2 linked regions of the Homo sapiens genome follow. The protein of the gene in region 2 purifies or fractionates together with the protein of the main gene of each other region. This does not show direct contact. Each region holds a gene or a part of one and is shown on either strand. Other genes may lie near its edges.

Evidence for each region. Proteins that work in one complex are often made in the same cells at the same time.
Region 1: the proteins of CACNB1 (region 2) and WDR75 purify together in Homo sapiens (affinity purification with mass spectrometry; 2 studies listed by BioGRID and IntAct, with this or other methods). This does not show direct contact.

The regions. Positions count from the first base shown.
Region 1 is NC_000002.12:189,443,590-189,451,637, reverse strand, and holds part of WDR75 (WD repeat-containing protein 75), read right to left. Parts: intron 3,260-8,048; coding exon 3,130-3,259; intron 2,838-3,129; exon of another isoform or gene 2,828-2,837; coding exon of another isoform or gene 2,804-2,827; intron 736-2,803; coding exon 670-735; intron 1-669. UniProt on the Homo sapiens protein: Ribosome biogenesis factor. Part of the small subunit (SSU) processome, first precursor of the small eukaryotic ribosomal subunit.
Region 2 is NC_000017.11:39,172,858-39,181,598, forward strand, and holds the end of CACNB1 (voltage-dependent L-type calcium channel subunit beta-1), read right to left. Parts: intron 5,223-8,741; coding exon 5,127-5,222; intron 4,679-5,126; coding exon 4,493-4,678; coding exon of another isoform or gene 4,388-4,492; exon of another isoform or gene 4,150-4,387; intron 3,103-4,149; exon of another isoform or gene 3,006-3,102; intron 2,801-3,005; coding exon 2,336-2,800; 3' UTR 596-2,335; downstream 1-595. UniProt on the Homo sapiens protein: Regulatory subunit of L-type calcium channels. Regulates the activity of L-type calcium channels that contain CACNA1A as pore-forming subunit.

The DNA of each region.
Region 1 (8,048 bases), on a different chromosome or scaffold from region 2:
CGAGTTTCCTACATATAGATCTGAAATGGTATTGTACTGAATGTATCATAATTTTAACTGACATCAAGGTCATATTTAACTTTTTTCCTACCATAAACAATGCTATAAGGACTTTGTGTACAGGCCATTATTCCGAGGTGAGACTGCTGTAGCAAAACGTGTTTATTGATTTTCAGTTTTAACTCTCATTGGGTAAAAAAGTGCCTGTTTCTCCATACTTTACCTATCACTAGATTTTTTTTCAATCTACAATTTGGCTAAATTTATGAGGGGAAATATTGTGTCATTTGTTTTAATTTAGATTTCTTTATTAATGAGTTTAAGCATCTCTTCATATTTATTGACTATTTGTATTTCTTTTCTGTGAATTTACATATTCCTACTTTATGCCAATTTCTTCTACCAGGCTATTAGTTTTTCCTTATTGGTTTTTGGGAAGATTTTTGTATATTTGGAATAATATCTTTTGTAAATATCTTCTTCCAGCTTTACCTTGTCTTTTATAAGTGGAAAATTTTTATATAGTCAAATTAATTTTTTTGATGTTATTTTGTAACTTGTTTAGGAAGTCTATTTAAATATTTGGCCTTATAGAAACAGTACATCTACCATTAAATTACATTGCCTTTTTTTATTCACATAACGAAAAGTAAAGATCAATCCACATACCTTTATTAAGATGCCATCTATATAGTCCCACAGTTTAATTGTGCCATCAAGGGAACAAGAATACAGCTAAAAGGGTAAAACAATACAAAATTGATTTAAAAAAAAGAAATTCATCAAGATATCAAATGAATAATTAAATGTTGATCAGGGGCATTTTCTATTCATTAATTCACTGTTAACCTTAAAGAGGTAGAGTCATTTATTTATATTGCTTCTGCAAAACAATCTTTTCACAGCTTTCTGCAAGAAGCAGATCCATCCATTTCAAGTTTTAACTAAAAGAGAGAGGAAAAAAGCCAACTTTCTGTCTTGAAGAGGGAGATGGTAAGGTTTTGAATGAGATATGAAAAGCACCAAGGTGCAGTGGCTGCCACCTGTAATCTCAGCACTTTGGGAGGCCCAGGTGGGTGCATCACTTGAGGCCAGGAGTTCGAGACCAGCCTGGCCAACATGACGAAACCCCTACAAAAATTAGCCAGGCGTGGTGGCACATCCCTGTAATCCTAGCTACTTGGGAGGCTGAGGTTGCAGTGAGCTGAGATCAATCACATCGCTGTACTCCAGCCTGGGAGACAGAGTGAGACTCTCCAGAAAAAAAAACCAAAACCAAACAAAACAAAACAAAAACACCCACACAAGAGCTTGTTGCTCTTCCTGCCAGAACTCAGCTTACTCAGTTTTATTAGCCAAACTCCTTTTACCTTATATGAGCATTAAGGGAGTGCTTCTCAAGTGACTGAAGAATATTCTGCTTAAAAAAATTTCTTCCAATCCATCAAGGACCAATACTTTCATAAAATACAATAGAAATTATAATATGCTTGGATGCTGAGGCAATGTCAAAGTGTTTTGTGACACTCACATTCTGTACTCTTATACAGAATGGTAACTAATGGTTTAGGACACTGGTCTGTGGACCATACTTTGGTAGCACCAGAAGACCTTACTAACACATAGGCTTACTTTTGTCCCAGTGTACTTAGTTTTATTAATACTAAGTTTCTGCTAGATTTTGTTGTCGTTGTTATAGGAAAATACTTTGCTTATAATGTTTACAAAGAATTTTAATATTTTTAAAGAAAGTGGCAATTTTAGGATTTCTGCAAATAGAGACATGGACTCAGAGAAGAGGAATGTAAAAATGTTGGAGTAAAACCATATTATCTATCCAAGTCAAAAAATTATACAAACTAGGAAATTTATATCACAATTACTGCATATGAGAATCATAAATATGGACTAGTAAAATGTAACAAGTCAAACATATAATTACTGTCAAAACAATGGTTAATACACAAACACTGTGACTCCTAAGTCCAGAACTGCTGCCCCTGCACCTCAACCAAATCTGATAAAACTGCCCTTCTCTAATTTTACTCACTTTCAGTCATCCGAAACAAAGCTTTTATGAATTGTGTATACGTTTTTTTGGCTATAAAACTTAGTATATGGACTTCACAAATTTCAATTTTAACAAAATAATAGTTTTGCTATTAAAAACATTCAAACACTACACACAGCGATAAACTTTTGTCAAACCCTCAGAGGACGGCAAGCATAAAATATGTACTTGGATCCCGTAGAAAAGTTACTTAACTTTGATTTTTAGAAGTAGCTCATTTAATTTTGGAAAGAAAAGATCGGTGCTACTTTATTTCCTTTGGAATAAAAGTGAATGGCAATGCAAATCCATCCTTAATCAATAACTTCCAAGTTGGCTGTGACTAATCCAGGAAAATGGAATTGGATTAAAAATAAGAGCAAGAACAAAATATTGTTGAGATAAAATTTTAGTAGATTTGCCGAAACTTAAGAACAGAATTAACATGACCATTTCATTATTCTTAAATACTAAGAAAGAAGGGCTGCTTTGTGGGGGACGTGGGAAAATCTGGACTAAATTAAATTCCCAAATTTGTCTTGAAACTAACTAGTTGACCCACTCACCAAACAAATTTTCTTATCTAGACACTGGTCTTAAGACTAGGCAATATCTAGAGTAAGCCAGAGCCTTACTTCTAAAGGAACATATCTACCAAATCAATACCTCCTGGCCAACATTTTTCAAAATGTGTTCCAGACACCAAATGGTTCACAAGTCAAGTAAGTTTGAGAAACACCAAAAACTACATACCTCTTTTGGATATTCGCAATGCATGTAAGGGAACCTAAAAAGATTACAATCAACAAATACATTTAACTGTGCCTAGCCCTGAATTTCAGAAACTCATACAGCCAAGAATATCCTTCTCAGGTAATACCTCTTAGCATTCTGTGGAACAAATGGTTCACAGAATATGCTATAGGCAATGTAATTTAGCAAGTGGAAAATACCCTACAACTGAAAATAAGCAAATATTTTACTTATAACCTGGAAAGTTTCTCAGTCAAATTCAACTCAAATTTTTCTGTCAAGAACAAAGCCAGTCTTAAAGTATTCAGCTATAAACTGTTTGACACCTGTAGATGGTTGTTGGGGTTAAGCTGGATTCCAGTCACCAGATTTCTGTGTCCATGCAGTATGTGTACACACTCTTCTGTAACTGTGCTGTAAACTTTAACAAAGTCTCCAGAGACACAGAAGATATACCTGGAAAAAAAAGAAAGAAAAGTAAGTTTTACATACTGTATTAGCCTGTTTTCACACTGCTGAAAAAGACATTTTTCATCATTGTTTCAGTGGTCTTGAACTCCTGGCCTCAAGTGATACGCCTGCCTGGGCCTCCCAAAATGCTGAGATTACAGGTGGGAGCCTAGCACCTAGGTGCTTTACATATCTCATTCAAAACCTTACCATCTCCCTCTTCAAATTTATAAAGGAAAGAAATTTAATGGACTCACAGTTCCACGTGGCTGGGGAGGCTTCACAATCATGGTGGAAGGCAAAAGGCATGTCTTACATGGTGGCAGGCAAAAACAACTTGTGCAGGAGAGCTCCCCTTTATAAATCCATCAGCTCTCGTGAGACTTATTCACTACCACAAGAACAGTATAGGGGAAACTGCCCCCATGATTCAGTTATCTCCAATTGGGTCCCTCCCACATGTGGAAATTATGGGAGCTACAATTCAAAATGAGATTTGGGTGGGGACACAGCCAAACCATATCACATACTCAATAGGTAGTAGGATCTTTTTATTGTCCATGATAAAAATGCAACAGACATTTCTTTTGGTATAGTTTAAGAATTGTATACTCAAATTTGTGTGCCTTTTGTCTATGGGGACATCTATGACCAATCAGTTCATTAACTCAGAAGAGATTATTAACTCAGAAAAGATTAATGATGCCAATATCATATCTCTTGACTGTTTGTAGACAGAGGCTATAAATGGAATTATCCTGCAAAAACAGCCAGCTTAACCAAGTTGCCTGCTCATTAAATGGATGCAGACACTGTACTAGTCACTATCAACTATTACTCTTCAATAGTACTGCCAACAGCAGTGTTTTTCCATGTCCCCAACATCTCCATGGTTCACTGGCAACACCAGCTTACAAATGGTAAGTCAAAGGTTCTGCTCCAGTTGGTGAGGTCTGGGCCTTTTGTACAGAAAAATACAAAGACTTTATTCCATTTTTGTTTCTTGTTGCTGAAATGCTAGCTTTGCTTTGTCTTTCTGGATTTGTGGATTTCTTCCATGTAGCAGCAGCTACTAAATTACTAAAAGTGGTTAAGCTACTTGGGGCACTGTTTGACTACTTTCACGATATTATCACAGAACAAGGCGCAGAAATATAAATCTTCTTGTATCTTCCAAGTAAAAAGTATTTGCTCTGTGTCTATTATATTCATAGCAGTACTCTCTTATTTATGGTTTCACTTTCCCTGGTTTTAATTACCTACAGTCAAGATCAATCTGAAAATATTAAATGGAAAATTCCAGAAACAATTCATAAGTTTAAAATTGTATGCCATTCTCAGTAGTGAATTCCCTTGTCTCACCTGAGACATGAATCATTCCTTTTTCCAGCATTCTCTGCTGTAGACACACCTGCCCGTTAGTCACGTAGAAACTGTCTAGTTTATCCTATCCACTATTGCTGTACTGAAGTACTTATGTTCAAGTAACCCTTATTTTACTTAATAATGGCCCCAAAGTATAAGGGTAGTGATGCTGACATATTGTTATAATTGTTCTATTTTATTAGTTATTGATGTTAATCTCTGTGCCTGATTTATAACTTAAACTTTATCATAGGTATGTATGTATAGGAAAACATTTACTATATAGAGTGTCTGGTATTACCTGTGGTTCTAGGCATCCACTGAGGGTCCTGGAACATATCCTCTGTGGACAAGGGAGAGCTACTGTATTACAACACACTAAATTTGTTGCAAACTGGGACCACTACTATCCTATTTTATTAGTTCAAGACACTTGATTTTCACTTGTTCATCTCTTTGAAATTAGAATGCATCTTATAATCAATGGTCTCTTGTAAGTGCTGTCAGCCAGGAGGCATGGTTGTATGAAATGGTATAAGATCAAGAATGTATGAGCAACAAAGCATTTGCGATATATAACCTGCCCTTTGGCTGGAGCCTCTTCTCCATTCCCATGAGTACTTCAGTTCAGAAGCTTAACATCTCCAGCCTGGGCCACTCTTCAGGGCTTCCTACAGTCTCCAGGTACAGTCCTTCAATGCAGCTTTCACAGTCACACCAGACTAATTTTGCAAATTTGACCATATTACTTGCTCAGATAAAGCTAAAATCCTTCACTGTTTTCCCTCTGACTTTAGGAAATGATCTAAATTCTTAAGGCTTTGGTAGTCTGATCCCAGTCTAACTTGAACTACTTTTTCACTTAACACTGTGCTCTATTAAAATAGTTCATAACTCCAACAATTTCCCCCATCCCCCAGACACACCCTATCAATATGAAGAGGTCCTTTAGATATGGCTTCCTTGAGACAGTGGTGGGTAGGGGGCTACTGTTGGCCAAGAAAACTTTCCCTAATTGATTCTGATAAGCTTCCTCAGAAAAAAGGAATATCCTCTCTTCTTGTTTCTCAGCATAGAACAATGGCTTCAATTACTTAAACGCAACCCTTCAAAGTCAACTTTCTCTCCATGGTTTTGCACTCTCTGCTATCTACATAGAACACGTTTTCTAATTACTTCTTTTTTATTTCCTAAGAGTAAGCTTATTTTTTAACTTTTAATTTTGAAATAATTTTAGATTTACAGAAGAATTACAGAGTTCCTGCATACGCTTCACCTAGCTTCCACAAATGTTAGCACTTTACATAAGCACAGCATGTTAGTCAAAACTAAGATATTAACACTGGTACATGACTATTGACTACATAATTTATTTGGAGCTCTTCACTTTTTCCATTAATGTCTTTTTTATGTTCCTAGACCCCAGTCCAGCATACCACCTTAGTTGTCATATCTTCTCAGAACCTTCCAATCAGTGACAGTTTTTCAGTCTTTCCCATTTCTCAGAACTCTTGACTACTGCTTTAAGATTCAGCTCAGAATTTTCTCCCGGAAGCCCTTCCTCATCTTCTCATTCTAGATCAGCACCCGTCCTAATGTGCTTCTACACGACGGTGGGCTTAGCTCCATCACAGAACTTACCACAAGGCATTAAGACTGTCTGTGTACTATGTTTCTCCTCTACCAGACTGTGAGTCTTTGAGGTGAGACACTGTGTTTTCACTTATTAGAAACAATAATAAGTCAAACACAAATGGATTCGAATGTCAGCTTTATTATGTATTAGCTGAATGATGTTGGAGAATTTACTTAACCTCTTTAAACTTCACATCTCCACTTACAGTTAGCCACTGTAAAATGTAAATAACACGTTCTCATAGAGTTTAAGTGAAACATTGCATGCAAATACAAGCTTAGCATACACAGCAAGCACTCACTCAATAGGGATAATACCTTAACCTTGTAGACTGGAAGGTGTGTAATGCACCCACCACAACACCTGTCACATAGGATTCATCTTTGTTGAGAAAGTGAAGAAGTAAGAAATTAGGGATGTTTCAAGTCGGAACCAAGATTTAAACTAGACTCTGAAGGATGTATGATTTAAGGGGTGGGAAGAAAAAATAGCAACATAAGCAAGAGCAAGGAAATGGTATGATTATATACAAGACACAGATAATGTACTTATCTGACAAGCAAAGTGTCTATAATGGGTAGTATCAGGAAACAGTTGGGTAGGAAGAGTTGAGCTATATCAGAGAAGGGATTGAAAGCCATATAGAGGAGCTATAGTTAAGGAGGCAACAAAAAACTGTTAAAAAGTTCAGAGCAAGACTAGAAATAAGAGTTAGAGTAATAATGTTATAACAGTAACAACTTAGGAAAATTGTTACAGCAGCAATACTCAGAATGATCTGTAAGGGAAAAATACTGAGTTTGGGACATTAGCTTGTGGGCAATTTAGGAAAGTGAAAGGCAAGGATGACTCATTGTTTCAGTTTTCTCTACCCTAACAACCCCAGTGCAATAATTCACAGCACCATATAACTGTGGGATGCCGCAGAATGGGATGCAAACAGAACTGGACTGAGAGTCAGTAATATCTAATATGGGAACACCAGGAACTTACATGTATACCCACATGCCCCTCAGAACAACCTACTCAAGTACCTAGAACAGAGTTTTTGTTCTAGTTTCAAGAGGAAGCCGCCAAAATTCCACAAGTCTGTCTTTTTATGATTTTGGCTTTCTTGATAAGCACCTTGAGGTAAAATACAAAATTATTCCTCTTTGTATAAGGCAGCCAATCCCTTGTGGTACCTTGTAGATAATATTCAAATCTTTGCTGAGTTCATTAAAATCCTGTCATTTGTTAGATAAATGGTTTTAATTATTAGCTTATATATAGATGACAAAAAAAAAATCTCTAAATCTTGACCAAGTTCTCCAAACTTCAGTCCTGAATTTCTACCTACTACTAGCTATATCCACCTGGTTGTTTTACAGGTACCTTAGAGTTAATAACCCCGAACTGAACTCTATCTCCCCATTGACACTGACTGTGAAATCACTCTAAAACCCTGTCTCTTTTCTCCATGTTCAATATTACCTTAGTTTGGGCAAAAGTGATTTCTTGCTTGGATGCCTGCACTGGTCTTCTAACCCCTGGTCTCTATTCTTCCAGAGTCTTTTCCTGCCATCTCTTATACCCTATGCTGCAATTACACTGACTTTACATAGAAGGCTCAATCCCCCCAGTTTTCAAGGCCCCCAGATTTCAAGCTTGTTTGCCTGGCATTCCATCCCCCAGTATTACTGGTGAGGCAAACTCTTGCCATTGCTGCAAGAACCACTACTGAAGGTAAAACTGACTATGTAACTCCCTCTTCTATGCCATCACTGTACTTTATGTACATCAGCCTACCCAGCT
Region 2 (8,741 bases):
AGAACCAGGGTGGGCACAGTGGTTCATGCCTGTAATCCCAGCACTTTGGGAGGCCAAGGTGGGTGGATCACCTGAGATCAGGAGCCTGGCCAACATGGTGAAACCCTGTCTCAACTAAAAATACAAAAATTGGCCAGGCGTGGTGGCAGGTGCCTGTAGTCCCAGCTACTCGGGAGGCTGAGGCAGGAGAATCACTTGAACCTGGGAGGCGGAGGTTGCAGTGAACCGAGATCGCGCCACTGCACTCTTCAGCCTGGGCGACAAGAGCAAAACTCCATCTCAAAAAAAAAAAAAGAAAAAGAACCAGGAGGGAGGGGAAATAGTTTGAGGGTACTGTGTGAGGCAGGACACAGGTGGTTGCAGTAACTGTCAGAAGTCCACATCCTGCCAGCTGGGGATGGGAGGAATGGGTACACTCACCTGCTGACTTTCAGTCTGGGACTGGCAGAATCCCTGATTTTCTCTGACCTGCCCCCACAAGTAGTCTGCCTCCCTGTCCCCAAAGCTGGTTAGCAGGAACGAGGGGGGCATTAGTGGAGCCAGAAGCTCAGCCCCTCCCTCTCCTGAGGTGTTGGGGCACAGTGATGCCACAAGAGCAGAAAAACAGTCATGTGTATTTAAGACATTGCACCAGTGGGTCTGGATCTCACCCACTGAGCAACATTGAGCTTCCCATTGCCTTTGGCTCTACTTGTGGAGAGACAGGTAAGTGAAGGGGCTCAGGGCCAGTGTGGAGCTGGGACTGCCCAAGCAGCTCCTGGCTTGGGCACAATACATCAGAGGGCCAAAATCAAAGGATCATCTTTTCTTTTGAGTCAATGACTCAGGGCACAACATCTTCAGGCACCCACCCTTTCAACTCCCCGTGCATATCAGCAGCTCCCAGGTGCCTACGCTGACGACTATGTGGCGAGGACAAAGAAGCAGGCTTGGGAGGCAGCCACAAAGGACAGGACAGTGGTTTTATATATGGCAAAATACTTCTCCTAGGGGAGTACAGACAAATATAGACAGACAGATGGGGGCACAGGACACCAGACAGGGAGGGGGGAAGGGAGGGCAGTGGTGTCTTCTAATCAGTAAGTGGAAGCTGCACCCCACCCCCAGGTGGAGGGTGGGACATTGGCACAGGAGGTGGCGAGACAGGCATGAGGTGCCCATCCCTGAGGCGGGCAGCCGGGCAGGCCCCAGTCCTTGTTGGCACACTCGGCTCTCTCTGGCCCAGCTGGGATGCTGGGGAGGGGCAGGGTTGCTGGGCTACAGGGATGCCAAGGCAAAGGGATGCCCCAGGGGAGAGGGGGTACCAAGGCCTCTCCTGGGGGAAGTGAACATGGGTAACAAACAGAATCACGAGAGGCAAATACAGAGCAGCAACAGCAGCAGCCAAGCCCCCCAGAGGAGATCCGAGGTCCCAAGGCAACCCCTGGGCACCATCCCACGGGTCCTCTCCCCTGGGGCCTCAGGGTGAGGGTGAAGGAGCAGTTTTTTGGTTTAAAATGAGGCGGACCAGAGTGTTCCATGGGCTCCACACCCAGGTGGCACAGGGATGGGGGGCTCAGATGCAGAGGGGCCCCCTCTACTAATGGCAGCAGGCAAGGGATGTTGGAGGCCAAGCTCATTCCTGGGGTAGGCAAAGGCTGAGGCATGGAGGTGGGGGGTGGGGAGCAGCGTCTCGGCCGCTCACTCCTCAGGGTTCTGGGCCCTGGACGTTGCCATGGCCACGGAGGGTAGAGGGTGCTGTATGCCTGCCAGCTTCCACCCAGAACCCTCCCCAAGACAAGCTCCCCATGGGGTGTCCATGCTATGGCTTTCACCGACCAGACGATGCTGCCAGGAAGCTGGGAGGAAGGGGCAGGCAGGGTGAGGGACCTTGGATCTGGGGTCTGGGGAAGAGAGCCCCCATGGGAAAGAATCTGTGGCCTCCCTTTCCAGGAAAAGCGCCCAGCCCTTCCCCAGTACTGCAGCTTGGGAGAAGGAGAGCCATCCCACTTAGGACCGTCACTTAGGGCCCCGAGTAGAAAGAGTTAAGGAAGTGCACCTTTTCTCTAGGAGGGTGAGGGAGGAGAGCCCCTTAAGATGGGAGAAAGGGGACACTTCAGAAAGGTGGGTATCCCCCATCCATCCACAACAGGCAGGTAAAAACCGACAGCTGGGGCTTAAGGGCCTCCCGGGAGCTGGGATGGTAACACCAAAGAAACCCCAAGCTTTGAGCAAAGGCATCTGAAAGGAGGGAGACAGCGCCCCCTGGAGGCGAATACATGTCAGGTGTGAGCCCCTCGCTCCCTCCCCTCCCCTGGGCTCAGAGCCCTTCCTCCCGCCGTGTGGCCCCTGCCTCTCAGCGAATGTAGACGCCTCGTCCCCAGCCCTCCAGCTCATTCTTGTTGCGCCCCAAAACTGGACCCCCACCCTCAGCGCAGTAGCGGGCCTTATTCCGGCCCCGGTTCCGGTTGTCGGTCAGCTCTTCCTCATAGTCTTCTTCCTCGTCCTCCCAGGATCCCTGTCGGGCTGGGGGCGTGCCGCCCCCTGCAGGGTCTCCAAGCCCTGGCCCCTCTGAGGGGTCAGTCTCCATGTCCACACATGAGTCTCCCAGCTCCGTGTAGGCAGAGTTTCGGCTGCCGGGGGTGTCGGCATCAAAAGTGTCTTGGCGGGACAGTGCCCGTAGCGTGCCTGCCCGGCCTGGTGGGTGGCTGCTGGGGTAAAGGCCTGGGGGCTGGCCCAGCTCCCCTGGGTACTCGTGCATGCTGGCGTGCTCCCCGGTGGCCCGTTCCAGTGGCTGGTCCCCGGAAGCAAGGTAGGGTCCCTGGTTAGCAGACGGACAGCACACACCATGCAGATCAGGCAGGGGTGAGAAAAACACAACAAAGCAAGGCAAGTTAGTGACAGCATTAAGAGGTCCGGCCTGGATGAAGAGGGTGCTGGCTCTAGAGGAGGGGCCCCGGGGACAAACGGCTCTGGAGCCCAGCCAGAGGACAGACCTCAGGGCATTTGCTCCTCTCTCGGGACAGGGGGCACCCGACCTTCAACAGATGTGAGGACATATGAACTCTCAGGGCAACTATGGCCAACAGCCGTGAGCCATGAGTCACCGCTTCCTCAGTGCAGGTCATTAATGCTATCTTGGGGCTAACTGTCATTAACAGCTCAGTATTGCCACTCATTAGCGGTTGATTCGGTTAGTCATTGCCTTTGGTTTTCCAAATATATTAACGGGATTTCAGCTCAAACCTGCTGACCCTGGCTTCTTCGACCCACACCAAACCCCAATCTCAGGCTTCCAGAACCCCATGCTTCTCCCACCATTCCCTAGTCGGATGACACCATCTCCAAGGCTGATGGGATTCCTCCCTTGCCCCCAACAAGCACTCAAAGCAGCAAGCTGGGGAAGGCTGCTGGGTCTCCCCCTCCTACTGAAGATGAAGAGGTGGCCCAGTGTCCTTATCATCAAATGTCACGTGGAGGTGGGGCACAAGAGGGGTTCCAGTCCCTCCCCTGCCATGTCAAGCTGTGTGACCCTAAGCAAACAGTTCCCCTCTCTGTGGCCTCATTTCTTGGTTGTAATGTGATGGGGGTTAGACCTGAGTAGCAGTTTCCAAACTGTTACCTAGAGATCTGGGGTGGCATTGGGTGGGAAGGGCACAGAAGTGCTTCAGGGGTCCCCATGGAGGTGGAGGGGAGGCCATTCCCCTGGCTCCCTCAGGGCAGAGCAAGGATGCATTATCTAACATCCTCAGCTTCCACGTAAGATTCATTGAACAAATGGGCTCTGTTGCTGAAAACAAATTTGAAAGCTACAGTCTAGAATGATTTCATGGGTTTCTTCTGGCTCTTAAGACCTTATACTTAATGGTGTGCCATCAAGAGGTGGGCTGTGGCTCCCATGGGAGGAGGGCAAGGCAGGATGGGTCTCCCATGGGAGGTCCTTTCCTGGACTTTAACTGGGAGAATGGTGGAAGGTTCAGCATCAAGTCATAGAAGATGCCACATTCTTGGTCCCTCTTGAGGGGCCTTGTGGAGTCAGGGCTCCAGGGAGGGAGAGTCCAGGTTTAACGTAGGTTTCCCTGGCTCTGAAGGCCCCTGCTCTGTTGGGTCTAAAAAGGGTGTGGAGTCCAGCGAATCAGTTTATCAGTCTTCCTCGCATGTCCTTCCTAGTCCCTTGTCTTAAAAGCGCTCCCATCAGGCCTCATATCCAGCGGGCAGCAGATGCGCTCCTATGGCACCAGGCCCAGGAAGACAGCACCAGAAGCCCCAGACCCATCAAAAACCACAGACACCAGAAGCTGCCGCTCATCTTATTTTTTTACAAAATAAAGCTCTTCCCTTCCTCCTCCATGTTCCCTGCACTCCAGTTCCGACCCCAGAGCAGGAGGGAAGACGGGCAGGGCGCCCACTACATGGCATGTTCCTGCTCCTGGGGCACCACACTGCCCCGCTGTGAGGACTCCAGCCCGCCCCAGAAGCCGAGGTTTCTCCTGAGCGAGGTGAGCACCTGTACCTGGAGGTTGGAGACAGGGGCAGGGCTGGCAGCCAGGGCTGCGGTAGCCATGGTGCGGTTCAGCAGCGGATTGGGTGGCGTGCTGCTGGGCGGGTGTGTGGCCTTCCAATAGGCTTCCAAGTACTCCGCCAGATGCTCGCAGGCATCCTCCAATTGGTTCTCATCCAGGATGATGTCAAACATTTCCTGTGAAGGCGGGGTTAGGGGGCAGGGCTGGGATGAGTGGGGCATGGCCAAGGGGGTTGAGGGTGTGGCCTGGGTGCAGTGGGTAGAGTCAAGGGATTGAAGGACAAGGTTAAAAAGAGGCCTCTGGATGTAGAAGGGAAGGAGAGCTCTCAGATCTACAGATTGGCAGAACTGCAAGAAGTTTTGGCACTCAGTCCAACTCCCTCATTCTAGAGATAAGGCAACCAAGGCTGGGAGACAGGGCTTGACTCTCCACGCAGAAGGGTGCTTCTGGGGCTTGAACCCAGTCTTTGACTGACGGGACCTGCGCTCTTCCCAGAAGACCAGTCTGCACCCACAGGCCTGACCCAGGTGTTCCTGGTCACCCTGTCTCTCATGTAGGCCAGAGGAAACCAGGACAACCCAAATGTTCTCCCTCCATTCCCTTCCCTGGGATCTAGGCACTCACAGGGGGGCACTGTGCCAGCTTTTCCGAGGCCGCTATTTGGACATTGAGGTGTTTGGACTGAGACTTTCCTCGGGACTTGATGAGCCTTTGAAGTACCTGGTTTGGGGAGAGAGAAAAGGAAGAGGAGCTAGAGGGACTCAGGCAATGCACCCAGTCAGAGAGGCGGGTCCTGGTTGGATCAGCATGGAGAGCCAGTGTCAAGACCCTTGAATGCTCCATAACTCTCAGCCCTGGGCACCTCTGCAGAAAGGACCTCAGCAGCCCTGTGTCTACCCTATGCAAAGCTCAGGCTCTCTCCTGGTGTTATGCCAGCCTTCCTTAGGGGCTATATGAAGGGCAGTGATTCTCCTTCTCAACTTCTCTAACATTGTTTGTAGGCCCGCCCACTCTCCTTTTTTTTTGTTTTTTTTTTTTTAAATTTTAGAGACTGGTTCTCGCTCTGTCACCCAGGCTGAAGTGCAGTGGTGTGAACATAGTTCACCTCTACCCTGGGCTCAAGCGAGCCCCCAGCCTAGCCTCCTCAGTAACTAGGGCTACAGGCACGTGCCATCATACCCCACTAATTTTTTTTAATTTTTTTGTAGAAACAGGGTCTTATTATGTTGCCCAGGCTGGTCTGAAACTCCTGGCCTCAAGTGATCCACTTGCCTCAGCCTCTCAAAGTGCTGGGATTATAGGCGTGAGTCACTGAGCCCAGCCACACCCTCTATATTAACAACGGCAACAACAACAGTCTTCCTTTATGGGGCACTTGCTACATACCAGCATTGTTCTGTGCTTTTCACATGATCAATTGAGTCCTGACAACAATCCTGTTAGATAGCTGCTATTATCATTCTCATCTCAACAACAAGAACCATAATTATAATAATGCAAAACCGGAAACTAATCATGAGGAACAATCACACAAACGCACACTGAGGGACAGACAGTCTACAGAATAGCTGTCCTGTACTCTGCCTAAATGTCAGTCTCTGGAAAATTCAAGAAAGGCTGAGGAAGCCTTCCAGATTAAAGAAAACTATACTGGCTGGGTGCGGTGGGTCACACCTGTAATCCCAGCACTTTGGGAGGCCAAGGCGGGCAGATCTTGAAGTCAGGAGATCGAGACCATCCTGGCTAACATGGTGAAACCCCATCTCTACTAAAAATACAAAACATTAGCCGGATGTGGTGGTAGGCGCCTGTAGTCTCAGCTACTCAGGAGGCTGGGGCAGAAGAATGGAGGCAGAGCTTGCAGTAAGCCGAGATGGTGCCACTGCACTCCAGCTTGGACAACAGAGCAAGACTCCGTCTCAAAAAAAAAAAAAAAAAAAAAAAGAGGGCCGGGTGCAGTGGCTCATGCCTATAATCCCAGCACTTTGGGAGGCCAAGGTGGGTGGATCACGAGGTCAGGAGATCAAGACCATCCTGGCCAACATAGTGAAACCCCGTCTCTACTAAAAAAATTAGCCGGGCATGGTGGCAGGTGCCTGTAGACCCAGCTACTTGGGAGGCTGAGGCAGGAGAACGGCGTGAACCTGGGAGGCGGAGCTTGCAGTGAGCTGAGATCGCCACTGCACTCCAACCTGAGCGACAGAGTGAGACTCTGTCTCAAAAAAAAAAAAAAGAAAGAAAGAAAGAAAGAAAACTAGGCCGGGCGCAGTGGCTCACACCTGTAATCCCAGTACTTTGGGAGGCTGAGGCGGGTGGATCACCTGAGGCCAGGAGTTCAAGACCAGCCTGGCCATCATGGTGAAACCCTGTCTTTATTAAAAAATAATAATAATACAAAAATTAGCTTGGCGTGGTAGCACATGCCTGTAGTCCCAGCTACTCACGAGGCTGAGGCATGAAAATCACTTGAACTTGGGAGGCAGAGGTTGAGGTGAGCTGACATCATGCCACTGCACTCCAGCCTGGGCGACAGAACAAGACTCTGTCTAAAAAACAACAGGCAACAAGTGATCCTGGGTTGGTTCCTGGATTGGGGGAAATGTTGCTATGAAGGGCATTCTATACCGGCACAGTGGCTCACGCCTGTAATCCCTACACTTTGGGAGGCAGGGGTGGTGGTGGATCACCTGAGGTCAGGAGTTCGAGACCAGCCAGGCCAACATGGCAAAACCCCGTCTCTACTGAAAATACAAAAATTAACTGGGTATGGTGGCAGGCGCCTGTAATCCCAGATACTCAGGAGGCTGAGGCAGAACTGCTTGAACTAGGGAGGCAGAGGCTGCAGTCAGCCAAGATCGCATCACTGCACTCCAGCCTGGGCAGCCAGAGTGAGACCCTAGCTCAAAAAAAAAAAAAACCAAATATGGACTATATTTTAGAAATAATTCTTGAATTTTACAATTGCATCATGGTTGTGTAAGATAATGATGTTGTTCTTAAGAAACACAATATAGGCCAGGCATGGTGGCTCACGCCTATAATCCCAGCACTTTGGGAGGCTGAGACAGGTGGATCTTTTGAGGTCGGGAGTTCGAGACCAGCCTGGCCAACATGGTGAAACTCTGTCTCTACTAAAAATATAAAAATTAGCCAGGTGTGGTGGTGGGCGCCTGTAATACCAGCTACTTGGGAGGCTGAGGCAGGAGAATCACTTGAACCTGGGAGGCAGAGATTGCAGTGAGCCAATATTGTACCACTGCACTCCAGCCTGGGTGACAGAGCGAGACTTCGTCCCCCCTCAAAAAAAAAAAGAGAGAAAGAAAGATAAAAGTAAATGTTTCAAAATTTGTGAATCTGAAAAAAATTAGACTGTACACTTAATTTATTTTTTATTTTTTAATAGAGACAGGGTCTTGCCATGTTGCCCAGTCTGGTCTCCAACTCCTGAGCTCAAGTGATCCACCTGCCTCAGCCTCCCAAAGTGCTGGGATTACAGGTGTGAGCCACCAAGCCTGGCTTATAGACTTTAAATGGCTGAACTTAATGGTATGGGAATTCTACCTCAATAAAATGTTAAAAAGTTAGTGAATCCTGGTGAAGAATATTCAAAAAATAAGATTTTTTTGATACTATTCTTGCCACACTTCTGTAAATCTGAAATTATTTGAAAATGAAAATCTTCTTACAAAATGGAACAGATATAGTTCTGGGATACCAAGCGTTTATTTTTATTTATTTATTTATTTATTTTTGAGACAGAGTCTTGCTCTGTCACCCAGGCTGGAGTGCAGTGATGCAATCTCGGCTCACTGCAACCTCCGCCTCCTGGGTTCAAGCAATTCTTGTGCCTCAGCCTCCTGAGTAGCTGGAATTACAGGTGCCCACCACCATGCGCAGCTAATTTTTTGAATTTTAGTAGAGGCAGGGTTTCATCATGTTGCCCAGGCTGGTCTTGAACTCTTTAGCTCAGGCAATCCGCCGGCCTCGGGCTCCCAAGGTGCTGAGATTACAGGTGTGAGCCACCGTGCCTGGCCCAATACCAAGCATTTTTCATGGTTAACCCATTTATTTAATCTTCACAAACCCAGTATGCCTATGCTGCAGATGAGGAAACCAAGGCATAGAGATGTTTGGCCGCTTGCCAAAGGAACACAGAGCCAGTAAGTGACAGCCCTGGAGTAGAAGGTCCAGGCTGCCTGGTTCCAGAGTCCCTCCTCTTAACCTCAGTGGGGGAAATGG